Regions from separate parts of the Homo sapiens genome. Here region 1 is linked to region 2. Evidence: fine-mapped expression QTL. A gene starts in region 2. The other region holds a variant in brackets. All regions are shown on one strand. Distances are from middle to middle.

Region 1 (8,580 bases), 40 kb after region 2:
AGCTATTTATTTTCGAGTTTATGAAAGAGGAATGAAATTATACTCTATTATTAAAACATACATAACATTACATAAAAGTTGTGTTTGTAGTTAACATTCAAGTATATTCAAGTTTCAGATTCAATACATTAAGTAACTAATGACTAAATTTAGTATTAAAAAATATAAATTGAGATGGAAGAACGTACCAGTTTGTTATAAAAAGATACAAAACCATAGCCTTTGGATTTTCCAGTTGCCATGTCTTTAACTACCCGGGCATCCCTGTGAAAAGAAGCACAGCTAAATGAGGGAAGTAAGAGCCACCCTCAAAATAAAAACTAAAAGGAACCACACACACTGTATTGTGAGCATTTTTAAAATAAAATTCCAGTTAGCCCTAATTAACTACAACCATTCCTGAACTCTCCCTAATGCTTCTTTACCTGTTAGAAAAAAGCAGTAGGACAAAAACATGTAATAAACATGCAACCTAATCAAATAGCCTGTGCTTTCTAAACTAAATGCTCAAATTTGAAGATTAATAGGAACAACAGTTTCCCTTTCTAATATTCTATTTACTAGTGTCCTCTAAGGTTTACTGATTCTATAAATTACTGTAACAATACTAACTACTTTACCATGCAATCTCTAAATAGTTAAATGTCTTCTGCCTAGTGATACAAAATATATGAAATATTAAAAAATTGAAAAAGAGGAAAAAATAGGAATTAAAAAGGCATACATGGCCTGTTAACAGATTTCTTTATTTTTCTTGGTCAATTCTCTACCATCATTTTGGAGTTTGGGCAGCTGTAAATTTTGAAAAATTGACATTTTCAGAAATTTAAGAAAGGAGAATAAAAAACTAACAACAATGCTAAGCACACCAGTACGAAAACAACAAATTTACACAGAAATTTTAGTGAGTAAGTTAAATGATTGGAAATATAGAACTCCACTGAATATAGAATGTTAAAATGTAAATACTAAAATATGTATATATAAATAATGTATAATAAGAATAAATAGAAATGAGAAAAAAAATCTACAACTGAGTTCCAGTGTGCACAGTTCCTTGCAGTTAGCCTTCAAGATCCTGTCCATTCTTATGAGCAATTCTGCAAAATAACCAGAATGCTATTACTTTTAATTGTGACTTGGACTTAAGAAAAACTGCAGGTCTCAGGTATAAATAAAGATTGAAAAACAGCAACCTGTATTATTTTTATATTGATTTTTAAAATAGTACTACTTACCACATTTAGATTAAAAAGCAAAGCAAATATCAAAACAGAAAGTTAAGAATTACATCTTTTAAAGAAATTAAATCTATAGAACAACAAATTGTATAGAGAAAATATTGTTGTTCTTAGTTGAAACACTTTCCTGTAAAGTAGTACTAAGATGTTTAATTTAAATCTACAGGAAATATACAAAATAAACTGATTTTAATCAGAAAGATAAATTATGATAAACATTTTCTACAATTCATAACCATTTTTAGTTTTCCAATATATTTTTTACCAAGTAACAACAGTAAAATCTGAGCATAAATTTGTTAAAAATCAAACCACATTTGCCTCTTAACTAGTAGAATCAAATATCACTAACAAAAACATCTAATTAATCCCACATTTATGACTCATACATTGAAACATTTTAATAGTATAATAGTACTTTTCACTTATAGCTAAAATATCAAAAACACATTTATCATAATAAAACATGAACATTTCCAATTTAATCACAATATATCCAAGGATTTACCTACTCTCCCCCATTTATAAATTCCTCCTATAAAAGTTATTGAACTCTTACACAGTATAGATCACATTTACTTTTGATTAACTCATTATCCTAAACCATCAAATTTTGAAAACATATGACAAAAAGCTAGACTTTATAAGTTTTACCATTCAAACATCTGCTTCAAAGATAACAAACAGAATCACTTAAATTTTTTTTAACATATTATACACAGGATTAGATGAAAACGAGACCCCAAGACACTGAAATGACATTAACATTTTCAACAACATCCACTACTCAAAACAAACCAAAATAAATAAATGAAAAATAAGAAACAAAACAAAACCATACTAACTAGAGAAAGAAAATCTTAATTCAATTACAAGTTAATCATATACAATTCTGCCTATCATGACTGAGTGTAGTACTGATTATGATACTTACGATATTTTACCAAAGGGGGCAAATGCTGATTTGATATCTTCTGTTGTAATTTCTGGACTCAAATCCCCAACAAACACATGGAAGTGATCTGAAATCAGAGCATTTGGTAATCAAATACTTAAGAAGTCAGCCACTAAAACCTTTTTAAGGCAACTCTAGAGGAGGAAAAAAAAACCTATTTAAGCTGGTAATGCCTCCTGGATAATTTCAGAACTCTTCCACAGTAAAATGCAGCAGGAGTACTTACTGGAAGTATCTTTTTTCTGGCTACTTGGTGTGGTTGCCCAGTTTACTTTGACCTCCTAAAAATAAAGATTATATTTAATAAAATTATTAGGCATGTCATGAGTTACAACACTTACCACTTATTAAATCATTTATCAAGCAGGGTTATTTTTGTAAAAGCACTAAGCTGAATAAAGCAAAACCATCACTCAGCAGCCGAATATCTGCTCAAAAATTTGCCTAGAAAGAATACAAACTAGTTTGACATGCAAATATATGTACTCATAAGGTGCCATCATCCTATTATCTTACCTTTCCCAAAATTTTTCTCCCATTCATAGCAGCTAATGCAGCAGCTGCATCTCTGTGTTCATAAAATTCCACAAAGCAATATGGGTCATTGCTTGTATGCTGCAAAACAGAAAATCCAACAGAAGAGTTGACCCTTCTGCTATCGGGTTGCTGAGAAGAAAATCCAGGAAAAAACATTACTGATAGCTGGGAATATACAAGGTGAGACTGCATAAGCTTATGAAAGCCTAACACTTTTTAAATAAGATTTAAAGCTAAACCTGACTTTGCACCTCAGAATACTGCTGAACTCAAACGGAACTATAAAAGCAGTTGTAGAATCATGAGCATCAGTATTAAATGAAAATAAAGAATTCTGGTGAAGTGTGTTAAATATAAAATAGAAGATTATATTAAACCAAACAAAACCTCAAACTCAGATCTGATGAGGACCACTCCTTACCACTACTTTCCTTCTCCAATATTATTTTTAAATTACGTTCTACTTATGCATCATAATCCTCTATAAGTGGTATCCCAGGATACAGAAATACAGCAAGAACCAACTTCATAAACTACTGATCAAAATTAGGATCAATACTACAAATGATGGAATTCTATGCTGCTACAAAGACTGAATTTTATTGATTTCTTTTCTGGATATGGAAAGAATGAAAATAAAAACAAGAAAACTTAAGCTTTATAACCAGCTACTGAAATGAATTCCCTACCTTCCAAAATAGTCTAATGTACTGAAGATTCTATATACTTTGAATTTGGTCTTCCAAAGATCAGAGAAATAACAGTGGTGATCAAGAAAAGAGGTTCTGAAAATGTATCTGAATAAAATATTCCAAGACAAAGCTATAAGTTTACATCATAAGAACACCATATAAAAAATCTATATTAAATATATTCTGCAACCCTGTGCTTGACAGTAGTTACCTAAAACACATTTATAAAGATGTGAAGAAAGTAGTACTACCTAAGCTATAGCAACATTCTCACCTGACAACCAAACTAGAAATGAATTTCTATGAAACTGCAACCTGTACTGAATAGCTGCACAACTGTACAAATACATATTTTTATGTAAGGCTAAAAACATTCATCATTATTCAATGTAAAATGCCCTATAAGAATAATATTTAAAATGTGGAATTCTAGTTGGACTTACAAGGGATAAATATACCAGATAAAATAAAGATCTTTTCAACCACAACAGTTTTTCATTCCAGGAAAGTTTTAGAAGAAAAATCCAAAATAAGACGTCTAAACAATAGTGGCAAAGGAACCAGAAGGCATTTCCTTGAGGGAAAAAAAGTGGGATCGTTAATACTGACAACAAAACTATGGGCTCTCATACAAAATCCTACTGTTGTAGCCACGTGAATGCTGTTCTTAAGAGGTAAAGAAAGGAAATGGGGGAAGACTTCAAATGAAAACACACATTTAAATTCTTGTAAAAGAGTTATTACATTTACCATAAATATTCATTGAAGAAAGGACATCAAAATAAATAAGAGGCTAAAATTGTGCTAGTTGAGTTTTCCTTTCACTCCTATCTCTTTTGCCCCAATGGTCTCTAAGGAAAACACTGATAATCACAGCAAAACATACAGGGGTCCAACAGCAGATCTATGATAATCCCATACACTTTAGGAAACTAGTCTACTCGTGAATACCAATTTCAAATCTATCTAATAGTAGGCCAGCTCCCAATCAATGTATGCACGTGCATGTATATATACACATATATTCACTGACATCACATATTTTATATATTCACATCACACTGCATATCATCTAATTTAAGACACCACTTATTTCTAAGTCACATCCCAACTGTCAGATATTAAAATTCTAAAAAAATTTGACTTAGAATCAATAATATATATTTGTATTATATAAGGAAAGCTAGAATCTATGATAACAACATCTAAAGTAAAAAAAAAATCATAAAACTATGGGGGAAAAAGGATTTTTCACATACTGAAATGAAATTTATGAAAGAAAAATAAATAGCTGCTAGATACTCTGCTAGAGTTTATACCCTCTGGAAGCTTCTTATTTACACCACCAAGTGACATCCTAAAAATCAATTATGGGCTGGGTGCAGTGGCTCACACCTGTAATCCCAGCACTTTGGAAGGCTGAGGCAGCTGGATCACTTGAGGTCAGGAGTTCGAGACCAGCCTGACCAACATGGTGAGACCCCCATCTCTACCAAAAATACAAAAAATTAGCTGGGTGTGGTGGCGGGCGCCTGTAATCCCAGCTACTCAGGAGGCTGAGGCAGGAGAAT[C/T]GTTTGAACCTGGGAGGCAGAGGTTGCAGTGAGCCAAGATCGTGCCACTGCACTCCAGCCCGGGCAACAGAGCCAGACTCTGTCTCAAAAAAAAGTGCTCACGCCTGTAACCCAAGCACTTTGGGAGGGCGAGGTGGGCGGTTCACGAGGTCAGAAGATCAAGACCATCCTGGCTAATATGGTGAAACCTTGTCTCTATTAAAAATACAAAAAATAAAAAAATAAAAAATATTAGCTGGGCATGATGGCACGCACCTGTAGTCCCAGCTACTTGGGAGGCTGAGGCAGGAGAATCACTTGAACCCAGGAGGCCAAGGCTGCAGTGAGCCGAGATCATGCCATTGCACTCCAGCCTGGGCAAAAGAGCAAGATTCCATCTCAAAAAAAAAAAAAAAAAAAAAAAATCAATTATGGCTGGGTGCAGTGTCTCATGCCTATAATCTCAGCACTTTAGGAGGATGAGGCAGAGGCAGGAGGATCACTTGAGCCTAGGAGTTTAGGACCAGCCAGAAGTTCGGGACCATTGGTAACATGGTGAAACCAATCTCTACAAACACATTTAAAAATGAACTAGGTGTGGCGGTGCTGTCCCAGCTACTTGGGAGACTGAGGTGGGAGGATCACTTGAACCCAGGAGGTGGAGGCTGCAGTGAGCCATGATGGCGCCACTGCACTCCAGCCTGGAGGACAGAGTCAGACCCTGTCTCTTAAAAAAAAAAAAAAAAAATCCGTTATGTCCCTACCTTATTTAGCGTTGTCACCAATTTTTGTTGGATGACATAAATGTCAAGACAGAGAAATATGAGACTTTACAAGCTCAAATCTAGGAGTTCTAGAATATGGATGTTATGAAAATTCATTTCGAGTCCCTCTACCCTTCAAATAGCTGTATGTATACATGGGGTTTTAAAAAATAGTTAAAATAAATCTTTACAAATGTTTCTCAAAAATTTTCTAGTGAGTCTTTCCCCACTTTCTCACAACCCGTTCTCTCCTAAACCTACTTCTGTCAGCTTCCAAGCTAACCATGCCACTGAAACTGCATGTTGAGCTCAACAATGACCTCTCTGCTGCTTCTGTGATTCCTTTTCCATCCTAATCTTTACTTCCAAGCAGAATTCACTACAGTTGACCACCATCCTCCTTTAAACATTCTCTTCTGTCTCCTACCACACTCTGGTTTTCCTGTTTCCTCACTGTAGGATCTTTCTTCCCTTACTCAAACTCTAAATGTTGAGCTTGTCCAGGGCTCAGACCTCACGGCCTCTGTGCTCTTCTTTACCATCATTCTCTCTCTGTGAACTCATCTAGTCCCATGGCTTCATGGATTCAAATACCACTGCAAGCTTCAGCACCGGTCTCTCTAGAGTTGCAAACTACTTTATCCAACTGCCTAATCTAACGTCCACTTTGATGTCTAATTCATGTCTTAAATCTAACATCCAAAACACAATTTCTGATTCCCACCACTCCCCATGGTGACATCCATCAGGTCACCCCCACTTTAGCAAATAAATAGCATTACCAACTATACAACTGCATTAACATGAATCTTAGGGTATTTCCTGATTTCTTCCTTTCCCTATGTCCCACAGCCAACCCAGTCCTATCAATTCTACCTCCAAAATATATTCCAAATCTATCAACCTCTGTCCTTATCTTGACTTCGGCTAGCACTTTCGAGAATAAGCCTCCATCATCTCTTACCTAGACTAGTGAAGTAAATCCAGATGGTTTTTCTCCTTCTGCTCTTGCCCGCTACAATCTATTCTCCATAAAACAGTCATTCTCTACATAGAGTAGTAAGCTTAAATATGCAAATCTTGGCACCTCATCCCCCTGCTTAAGCCCCTCCACTGGTCTGCCACAGCAATCAGAGTAAAACCTAAACTATGTCATGGACCATAATGTCCTGTGATTCTGAATCCTGCTGTTAGACTCATTTCCCTTAACTCCCCTCCATCCCTCACCAGACTCTAGCCATCGGTCTTTGATTCCACAAACACAAGTTCATTACCAACTCAAGACTTGTATTTGCTGTTTCCTCTGCCTCCAGCTCTTACCATAGATAGCACCATCTTGTTATTCATCTCAGCTCAAAGAGGTGACATCTCTCATCACCTAGCCTATATAGCACCAACCCTCCAATCATCACAGAACTCTGTTTTATTCTCTTCATGGCTTACATCCCTATTTGCTTGGGAAACTCATTTGGCTGTCTCTCCATTATATCTCCAGTACCTTGTATAGTGCCTAGTGCAAAGGAAATTTTTGATCGATGAAAGCACAAATAAATAATTAAAGGCAGGAAGGAAAAATATAATACACCAGAACAAAATGATGATTGTCATTACTTGGGAAAGACAATCAAAAGGCCAATGCACTTTAAAGGTTTTTAACAGTTCTCCGTTTCAGGATAAAACAAACTCTTTAGCACAGTTTCTAGCCCTTTCCATAAACTCCTGCCATCTCTTACGACTAATTCCATTTTAACTACAACCATGCTACGGGTTCTATTTTTCCCTCTCTGTCTCAAGCACTCCTGCTCTCCCTACCAACCTGGATCAAAGTTCCCTTTATTTGGAATCCCTTCTTCCCTCAATTCCTTTCTAGCCAGTATGTACTACTATCCTTTCAAGGTTTCCGCCTAGGCAGTGAGTCCTCCAAGAAGCCGCTCACTGACCTAAGGCTGCACTGGATACACATTTGCTCCCACAGCACTTTAAGTTGTCTGCTTCTAGAGCATTTATTATCCTACTTCCTAAGTGCCTGCTAACTCCTTTGTCTCCCTACTAAACTGTAAAATTCTCTGGGCCAAGGAACTATCTTTATTCACCAGTGTATCTCTAGCACTTACTGCAGTATCTAGTACATAGGAAATAGTCCAAAAAAAAAAAAGAAAGCTGATCAATGAACAAAAACACAAGGAAGAAAAGCCTAAAACATGACTAATTGGGTGCTGCTACAGTCTTAGCAGGAAAGTATAAAAAGGTAAGTATTTGCTACAGACACACGAGACGAACGGTGCTGCACACTACACACATAATAACTTCGTGTTCTCGCACATGAACACATGCTGTCTAAATCGTTAACATTCTTATTGGAATTGTATGAAATACTTTCCAATTTTTCACCATTCTGAAATGAGCTCTAATAATGTTCTGAAAGCAGAATCACTTCAAGATAACCACACCATGAAGAATGACCGTTTGAGCTTAACAGCACGGAAACTTTGCCCTCTTAAATAAAACTCCATTCTAAGCCTAGTTTGTCAGCCAAATCAAAGTAATAAGTCAACACAACACAAATCTCTCCACCAGAATAACTTGAGGCTTACAATGAAATTTTAAAATCATGCTAATCAACCCATCATGCTAATTGTCAGCACATGGAACTGGGAAGATCTTACCTCTGTTATCATTTTACAGCTTTTACAGGGTCCAATCTGACTGAACAACTGAAGTATAAGGACTTCTGTCACATCTCTGGAAAGGTTACCTACGTATCTGCACAAGAAAAAAATACGTTATCAGCAATTTTTCCTTTAGCTCTGGCTCTAATGTGTTATCATCTAATTCATCACC
Region 2 (9,829 bases):
CAGAGATAAAACACCGTGAGCACCTCACACCCACCAGGCTACGGGCTGCACTAGGTGGTGCCCAGAGCAGGTCCCAGAGGCTCAACTGGCTCATAAGCTGACCACACCTATAGAAAACAAGGCCCTTCGGCTGGCCCCTCTGTCCCCCCAGGCCTGGGCCAGTGATATTCTGCAGAGAAAGTTGTCCCAGCTGCCAAGGCTACCCTGCTGCCGAGTTGTTAAAACAAAGACATTAAATTGCTGTGCAAACTGTCATCTTTAAATAAAACAAGCCCAGCCATAAACTTAAAACTGTTCCCAAGGGTTTAATCGGATCCTGTATGACAGGCCCGAGGGGACGGCCGAAACCTGCCCGGCAGGGTGGGAATTCCCCTGAGAGGTCACCCCTGGGTGCAGCTGCAGGGGTAGGGAGTCGGGTGGCTTCAGCTTGGCATCTCAGATGGGCATATTTCAGCTATCAACAATGCAAGGTTGATAACTGGGCAGGGTGAGTGGACAGAATCCCGTTGGGGGACCCTCACATTTCACTGGCCTGAGAATTCTCTGGGGTGCTTGTCAAAGACAAGCCCCACCTACAGTCCCCAACACTGAATCAGTCTGGGCAAGGCCTGAGAAGCTGCACTTTATCAAAGCCCTCCTGAACCCACAGGACGGGTGGAACACACTTTGAGAAACCTCAGGAAGAATAAGGAAATCCCACTCTGAACCTTGGAAGGAGGGGTTAGGAACTCAAAATCCTCCGCGGAAAGACAGTGTCTCCAGTGAGATTTTGCTGAAAGGTAGGAAAAGTGTAAAATAGAAGGTACTGGGGGAGGCAGGACCACAGCCAGGTCCAAATCAGGGGTCCTGCAGGAGCAGCTCTGGCTTTTGTGGAGCCTGAAGTTTATACAATTTGAGGATCCTCTTTAAGAAAAATAATTCAAAATTACAAAAAAAAAAAAAAAATTAAGTACAGGGTCCCAAAAATCACTTGGCTGTCTTCTCAGTACCTCGGCCCACAGGCCCAAATGACCCCTTTCTCACTAGGCTTCTTCTTTTCACACGGCTGGGTGGTGATGACCAGTCAGGCAAGAACTTATGTTATTTTCCATAATGGGGAAAGACCCTACACCTACAATTCCAAAGAAAATCAGGCTATTGGAGTGGAGGCATCCAGTACCAATCCATGATGTTTAGTGGCTGATCTTCCTTCCTTCCTTCCTTTTTTCTTCCTTCCTCCCTTCCTTCCTTCTTTCCTTTTCTTTGGATCTCACTCTGTCACCCAGGGTGAAGTGCAGTGGCACGATCTAAGCTCACTGTAGCCTCAACCTCCCAGGCTCAAGCCATCCTCTCACTTCAGCCGTCTAAGGAGCTGGGACTACAGGCACGCATCACCATGCCTGGCTAATTTTTTAATTTTTTTGTAGAGACGGGGTTTTGCCATGTTTCCCAGGCTTATCTGGAACTCCTGGGCTCAAGCAATCCTCCTGCCTCAGCCTCCCAAAGTGCTGGGATCACAGGTGTGAGCCACTGAGCCCGGCCTGAGACCGACCTTTCTGTCAGTGATGTAACCACATTTTATGAGGTTTAAAATTTGTTGCCCTGAAATAATTTGTTCCCTAAAACTGCCTTCAGCCTTTTTGGGGTGCAACCTGGCTACACGCAAAATCACCCCAAATCCATGTATCTCCCAGGATACAATGGTTCTATCTGTCAGTCTTCAACCCAAAAGCAATCTAAAGTAATAAGTAACGCGTACAGGGCTATTCATAGCAGCTCTATTTATAACAGGCAAAAGGGAGAAAAGCTACTAATTATTACACTTTTATTATGTGCCACACATTGTACTAGGGGCTTCATATGGTTTTGAGTATTTAATCCCATAACCCTATGAAACCCACTTTGCAGGTGGAGAAAGGTGCTGGAACATCAGCTCTCCTGAGTCAAAATGAAGCCTTCATTTTTAGCTTTGTTGATTTTCATGATGTAAATATCCCATCATAACTACTTTCAAGCTACCTATGGTTTACAACCAGTTTCCAAACTTTTTGAATATTTGGCAACTGGCTCTTGCAAGCCAGTTTGAGCCAGCTCCAGCACATCACTGAAACGGAGGCACAGAGAGATCAAGTAATTTGCCCAGTGTTGCTGAATGACAGAGTCAAGGTTAGAACCAAGAGTTTAATTCGAGTCCAGGCTCTGAGCAGCGCTCCACAGGCCTGTGCCAACCATAGAGACTGGTTAACATTAACACCCACAAGGGAATTCTTTGACTCACATGCAACACAAAAAGGTTTACATGACCACTAACGCTAACGGAGCACTTAGTACTTGCCGGGCAACAATGTAAGATCATTACAACAACCCTATGAAATCCTACATATTAAATACAATAATTTGCAAAACCTGATGGATGGAAGACAGGTTCCAATTAAGTACTTTAAAAGGCGAGTAGCTACTGTTATTCCCACTGTGCAGAACCTCATTCTGCAGAAAGGTCCCACGGCTGGTGAATATGGCGAAGGTGAGATTCGGATCCAGCCAGTCTGGTCCCAGTCTCTAAACCACAATGTCCCTCATAAAATACCAGGAGCAGAAAGGAAATGCACCAACGCGTTGGGACTCTGAGCGCCAAGCAGAAGTGAATCTTGGCGTGGGAAGCCCGGCAAAGCCCCCGAACTTCAGAGTCAGGGGAACCTGGGTTTGAAAGCCTCCCCATCACCTGCGGAGTGTGACTGGGGCAAGTTACCTAACAGCGCCTGGCTTCCGCTCCCTCCTCACTCACCGGGTTGTCCTAGGGGTGAAGGGAGAGTTCACCCAACGCGGTGGACAAAGCCCTTGGCGCACCCAAAGGCCTGCACAGGTCGTAGCTATTGTGATGAGCAAAAGGGTGGAAGGACCGGAATCAAGGGCACGGCTCCACCTTCACCGTGGGGTCTTTGGCCTATCAAGTTGCCCGAGATCGTGGCTCAGGCTGGCCCAAAGTGACGGCCAAGGCGAATCCTTCGTAACGTCAGAACTTCGCTGGCTCGGACCGCAGAAGTGCCCTTCTCCATCCTGGGGTTCCGCCACCCTCGCGATCCCACCTTTTGGCTCCTCGCGGCAGAAGCGAAGGCCCCCGACGCCCCAGGCCCAGGGGCCCAGTCGGATGCCCGGGTCCAGCCGTGCTCCCCCGGGCGCTCGGCATCCTTCCACCCACGCCCGCAGCGGAGGCGGAGAGCGTCACGGAGGGAGAAGCCCGCGCGCCGTTCCGCTTTCGGAATCTGGAGCCCCATGTCACCTCCAAAGTTTGGAGATTTGGGGCGCTCCTTTTTCTCCCAGACCATCACTAAAAAGAAAACTGCGGCTGTTCCTCTTTCAGCCAAACTTCCTCCCCGGGGCTCCCGGAGGAGCTCTGCGCTCCCGTCGCGGCTGGGACCGCGAAGGTGCGGTACCCAGCGGGGAGAGGTGGTGCGGTCGGCCGGGGCTCCAGTCTGGGAGGTACCACCGAGCCGCGCCCGAGCACAAGAGGGAGGGCAGGAGGCCGGGCGGGCGAAACGGCGCCCCGACCCCGAGCCCGCGGGCCCCCGAAGCCGCTTACCTGACGGCGGCCGCTTCCTGCTCAGCCGGCTCACGGCGCGGTTGAACATCGCCGCGGGCGCCCGAGGAGGAAGAAGGAGCAGCCCGGCGGCGCGGCGGCTGAGCCGGAGGAAGGCGAGGAGGAGGAGGAGGGCGAGGAGGAGGAGGAGGAGGGCAAGGAGGAGGAGCGGGCTCAGCACCGCCCCGGAGCTCTAGGTCCCCGCCCGCCGCCCTCCTCCTAGCCAGGCGCCGCGTGGCGCGCTCAGTGCGCCCTGCCCGCCCCCGCTGGTGAGGACTCGCGGTTCCGCTCCGGGGTGCCCGGGCGGGGCAGGGCAGGGCAGCCCCGGGTGACCCCCGATCGCCCAGAGTGTGCCCCGCGCCTGGGATAAGGTGCACTGGCCCAGAGGGAGCCCGCGCCGCCGGGAACTTAGTAGCCCCGCGGAGGCGGTTAGCGCGTCCCGGGGTCCCTGGCCCTCGCCTGAGATGCCGCCCCGGCCCGCCCCGCCCAGCTTCAAGCTCCCGGGCCCATCGCGGTCTCCCGCCTTCTCCCTGTAGCCCCGGAGAAACTGGCACGGCGCCGCGGGCGCACCGCGCTTCGGGGCTCTCAGCGAGCCTTCGCAGGTGGCGGGCGGGGTCCCCTCCCGGGTCACAGGCTGGGAAGCCTAGGCCTCGCGGTTCTGCAGAGTCCGGGCGCGGCCCAGCCTGTGGCCTTTGCCTCCTCGTCACCAGGATCCCCGCCTGCTGGGGCCTGGCTGCTCCTCGACTTCGTGGGCGCTGCGCCTTCCCGCCCCGCGAATGCGGGTGGGGCGTCCCCAGGGCCCGTGCGCTGAGCTAGCCGAGCCGCCGCGGGTGGGCGCCCTCTCCCCGGCCGTGCCGCGCGGGCGCCAGGACTCGGGGAGATCTGAGAGGATTCTGCAGGAACCCCCCGGTTCCTGCGCCGGGCGGTGCTCTGTCCCGCACACCGCGCTCTCGGGACACTTCTCTAACTTTGGGGACACGTGGGCACTGCCTCTGGCAGGGCCTTCAGGCTCCACGACCGGGACCACTCAAGCCCCCACGGCGTCACCTGCTGGGCGCTGCGCGCTCTACGGTCTCCTATTATTTCATTTCTTCTATGGAGCAGCCCCAGAGGGGATGTCATTAGCCCCCATTTTCTTGAACATTTGGTTTGCAAGAAATTGTCTTTCTGGCGAGTTTTATTTTTCTCCTTGTGTATCTGGCTTTGTCTCTAAATTGGTCTTTATTTTTAGCTGTACTAATTGCTATTTTTCCAAACCGTTCCCCAGTCGCCCTCCCCCCATCCCCCCGTCCTTTTGCAGTTTTTTTCACTACTTGGCACTTTCTTTTGTATCTTCTATTCTGAGCTTCCAGTTCTGCTCACTTTCCCTCTCCCTCTACCCACCCCACAGCCCCAGTTGCACCCCAAGTGTGGCCGGTGGTTGCTTGTTGTTTCCCTCCCCGCTATTCCCCCTCCAAAAGTCGTTTTCCTCCGAGCATTTCCAAGCACTCTCCCCCTTCTGCTGCCAAAAGAGGATTTCCAGGCTCCTGAAGCGAACGCGGTGACCAAGAACAGGGTTAGACCCAGCGCGGGGAGTTCTGCTTTTAAAACTGCTGTTGTTGGCCTACTCCGGGCCCAGACAAACTTCCATCTCATTGTAATGGGATCAAGCTGTGATACTTAACTATAGGCAAGAGTTTCACCTTTCGTAAGAGCGGGATTTTAAATGCTGGCAGAGTCCTGGATCCAAGTGAGGTCACTGCGTTCTTAAAACAATAAGGGAATTGGTGCAACGCACTCACCCAGAAAACTTCCCCGAGACCAAATTACAAGTAATCCTAAGACAGGAAATAAGCACACTGGCACACAGGGGTAAAAGTTAGGCACAGCAGCTCAGTGTTTTGCTAGTTGCCAAGTCCACCCTAGCGTGTCCTGAAAAACACTGGTGTGGCTTAAGACATGCTATGAATCCCTCCTGAGCTAAGAACCCCAGGCATCTCTTAAATAAAGGGAAAATATAACAGCCTTAAATCACTTTTACTGTCCTGTTAGCACATCAGAGAGTAAGTACAAAAATTAAGATGCATAGTTAGGGCCAGGCGCTGTGGCTCACGTCTGTAATCCCAGCACTTTGGGAGGCAGAGGCAGGCGGATTACCTGAGGTCAGGAGTTCAAGACCAGCCTGGCTAACATGGTGAAGCCCCATCTGTACTAAAAATACAAAAATTAGCCAGGCCTGGTGGCAGGTGCCTGTAATCCCAGCTACTCAGGAGGCTGACACAGAAGAATCACTTGAGCCTGGGAGGAGGAGGTTGCAGTGAGCCAAGATCTGAAGGAGGAGGTTGCAGTGAGCTGAGATCTCACCACTGCACTCCAGCCTGGGCCACAGAGCAAGACTCTGTCTCCAAAAAAAGGAAAAAAAGGCCGGGTGCGGTGGTTCACACCTGTAATCCCAGCACTTTGGGAGGCCAAGGCGGGCGGATCACCTGAGGTCGGGAGTTCGAGACCAGCCTGACGAACATGGTGAAACCTCATCTCTACTAAAAATACAAAATTAGCCAGGCGCGGTGGCAGGCATCTGTAATCCCAGCTACTCAGGAGGCTGAGGCAGGAGAATCGCTTGAACCCGGGAGGCAGAGTTTGCAGTGAACTGAGATCGAGCCATTGCACTCCAGCCTGGGTGACTGAGCAAGACTCCATCTCAAAAAAAAAAAAAAAAAAAATGCATGGTTAACGTTTAAGTGCACAGTTTAAAATTTTTGCCTGGGACATTGAAATTGCTATAAATACCTGTTTTAAGTGTCTGAAGGTTCAAAAGCCAGTTTTCAAAGTGTATTGTGCAAAAGACCACGTATAAAAGTATAAAGCCTCCTAACTCCTAAAACTCGCCAAATGCACACACACATACACACACACACTCACACACACACACACACACACACACACGATTAAGTTCCAACCGTGGTTTGCATTGGATTGAAGGTGCTCACCATCCCAATGGCATTTTTCCTGTAATTCCAGCATGCACTTTCTGAAGCTTTTTTTTTTTTTTTTTTTTTTTTTTGAGACAGAGGTTTCACTATGTTGTCCAGGCTGATTTCTGACTTCTGGGCTCTCAAGTGATCCTCCCTCCTTAGCCTCCTAAGTCAAGCCTTCACAAACAAACTGCGGTAGCCAGTGTGGGGAAGAAGAGGATGAGCGGTTTAGCCCCTTTCTTCCCCTGCTGGTCTCACTTTTGGTTCAAGGATGTTTACATCAGGCAAGAAGCAAGAGCCCCGGATGTCTTCTGGTAACACAAGATTTCAGAGGGATTACTGGCTTTGGAGTTCAATATTTTCATTCTACCCAGAAACTAAAATATTGGTAAGCTGTGAATACATTTTAGAGCCTCTCATCACCAGAATTTATGTAACAAGACTATTCTAGGCCAGTTGAGGCAGACAAGGTATAGTAAAATGAATAAGTGGCCAACTTAAAGTCAAGAGACCTGGGTACTAATCTGACCAAACAGCAACCAGCTGTGTGGACACACCAGATGTGTCCTCAAACACATCGTAGCCTCAAGGGACAGGGCAAGGAGAGGTCCACCTACACTCCGAGCAAGTGGTATTCAATAGCAATAAACAAAAAAGCATCTGGCATCGTGCCCAGCACATGTAGGCACACAAAAAATTACTGGAATTTTAATTACTCTTACTCCCCCTACAATGATGTTTTAATAAATGATAAACTTTATGGTACAGCCAGTCAAAAGTGGATTTCTTTTCAATTATAGGAAATTGGCAGGGTTAGTAACACTGATGTTCACATTGTTACTACACTGTGAAGGAGGGAAAGTAAATTGTTACAACCTCTCTAGAAGGAAGAGAAGCAGATGTGTTAATATATGTATTTGACAACACATGTAAGAGTCTTCAAAATGTTTATACCTCTTGGACTAGTGAATAATTCTATAATTGGTAATTTGTGCCAAAAGAAAAACAATAAATGATGCGAACATTTACGTGTACAATTAAACATAACACTTCCTTTTATCAGGGTTATTTACAGTAGCTAAAAATGCCCGCTAAGAGAATGACTAAGGTATAACATATTCTCCTGATAGAATATTTAACAGTTATAAAAAACTGTGAAGAATCTTTGGAACTTGGTGGAAAAAACTAGTGCAAAGAGAAAGATGAAAGAATCTTAGACGAAGCTCTCGTTGAAAAATCAGGATACAAATATAGAGAAAATTTTCAGTGTGGAGGAAGAGGAGAATACGGTATGTTTATACCTAGAAAGCTAGCAGTTAATTACACCTAAATATTACTAGACTATATCTCTAGATAATAGGATAATGGGTTCTTTTTTCTTCATTACATTTTCCTGTTTTGCAAACTTCTGCAGTGTATGTGCTTTTAAATCAGGGAGAAAAATCACTAATTAGAGACTAGTTGAAATCTCTACTGGGTTTAATGCCACAAAAATACATAAGGCTTCATTTCTGTTGCAGTTTTGTGTTTTGTTTTTTAGAGACAGGGACTTGTTCTGTCGCCCAGGCTGGAGTGTGGTGCTGCGATCATAGCTCACTGCAGCCTTGAACTCCTGAGCTCAGGCAGTCCCCCTACCTCAGTCTCCTGAGTAGCTAGGGCTACAGGAGTGCACCACCATACCCTGCTACTTATGTATGTACGTACGTATGTATTTATTTATTCATTAATTTTTTTATTTTTAATTTTGTTTATTTATTTATTTATTTATTTGAGATGGAGTCTCAAATAAATAAATAGAGATGGGATTTCACCATGTTGGCCAGGCTGGTCTCCATCTCCTGATCTCGTGATCTGCCCACCTCGGCCTCCCAGAGGGCTGGGATTACGTAAGCCACTGCACCTGGCAAAAGTAAATTTTATTTTTAGAGCAATTTTAGGTTCACAGCAAAATTGAACAGAAAGTAGAGTTCCACATGCCTCCTGCCCCAAACACGCATAGCCTCTTATAGCATATGACCTCCCACACCAGAGAGGTACCTTTGTGCAATCAAGGAACCTACAATGACACATCGTTATCATCCAGAGTTCATATCAAATACCCTTTTCCCATCTCAGGACTCCCACCTTTTTTGGAGGGTGTGGGGCTAAGGAGCAGAAAGTTTAATACGCAGGAGTAAGAGAAAGGAGAACAGTTCTCTCTCTAGGGAGAGAGAGGGGCTTCCGAAAGGAAAGACCAACAGTGGTGGGGTTCACTGGATTTTATAGGCAGACTTGAGAAGGCGGTGAATGATTTACATAGGGCCCACAGATTGGTTAGATCAGATGTGACGTTTACAAAGCGCCCAGGGAAGGCTGGCCACCCCACCCTAATCTTACTACACAAATGAGTTTTCCACTTGACTGGTGACATCTTGTCTGCTCCTTATACACATGTGGCTGGCAAAGACAAGGGAAGATGGAGCCGCCATTCTGAACATGCCTAGTCCCAAGTAGCTTTTTTTCTGCCGGCATTCACCCGTGCAAGCATCCAGCTTGCTTGTCTATGTCTGCAGCCGGGCGTGGCGGCACATGCCTGTAATCCCAGCTACTCGGGAGGCTGAGGCAGGAGAATCGCTTGATCCTGGGAGGCGGAGGTTGCGGTGGGCCGAGATTGTGCCATTGCACTCCAGCCTGGGCAACAAGAGTGAAACGCTATCTCAAAAAAAAAAAAAAGAAAGAAAAGAAAGAAGGAAGGAAGGAAGGAAGGAAGGGAGGAAGGGAGGAAGGAAGGGAGGAAGGAAGGAAGGAAAGAAAAGAAAAAGGAGACAACAATGGGAGAGAGATTTCAGCCAATCAGAAAGGAGATGGAGAAGCAGAAACACTTAACAAGAGGAAGGAGCTACAACCTAAATGCAGGCAGGGCGTGCCAGTTAGAACAAGCCAATTCACCCTGCAGAGCCTCAGAGGAGCTCCTGACCCAAAGGCACAGACCACAGAGAAGAGGACAGGCAAGGACTGAAAAGGGGAGATTGATAGAAGTCTATATAAGGAGACTTCAGTTCCCCTGCCACCTACCTTAGGAAATAATGATCTTGGGAAATAGTGAAGTACAGAAGCTCTGGACTTATGAACTACTGGCTGAGCTAAAGGTGCAGATGAGCTGTGGGCATCAAAGAGAGTGTTAAGCCTAGATCTGTACACAGGATTGGGAGGCCCTTCTTCCTCAGCCCCTTCCCCAGCAGCCAGATGTACTAGAAAAATTTACTCTCTCCAAAACAAAAAACAAAACAAAACAATGGAAATTAACATTTAACGTTCTCCAGAGTTAGCACTGGCCAAC

What was found.
Region 1: its variant is fine-mapped to the expression of RGS10 in whole blood (INTERVAL, PIP 0.93).

What each region holds. Positions count from the first base shown.
Region 1 is chr10:119,579,747-119,588,326 of GRCh38, forward strand. TIAL1 (TIA1 cytotoxic granule associated RNA binding protein like 1) reads right to left here. Exons shown (of 12, transcript NM_003252.4): 2 at 8,406-8,502; 3 at 2,713-2,811; 4 at 2,423-2,477; 5 at 2,176-2,263; 6 at 189-264. Among named protein-coding and RNA genes, the nearest start is that of TIAL1, 13 kb to the right of the region's middle. The variant C/T (reference allele first, on the strand shown) is at 4,997.
Region 2 is chr10:119,539,031-119,548,859 of GRCh38, forward strand. RGS10 (regulator of G protein signaling 10) reads right to left here and starts at 3,689. Exons shown (of 5, transcript NM_001005339.2): 1 at 3,560-3,689. The coding sequence starts at 3,608. RefSeq lists silencers at 3,142-3,311, 3,362-4,101, 4,112-4,181, 4,232-4,391 and enhancers at 4,602-4,681, 4,944-5,452.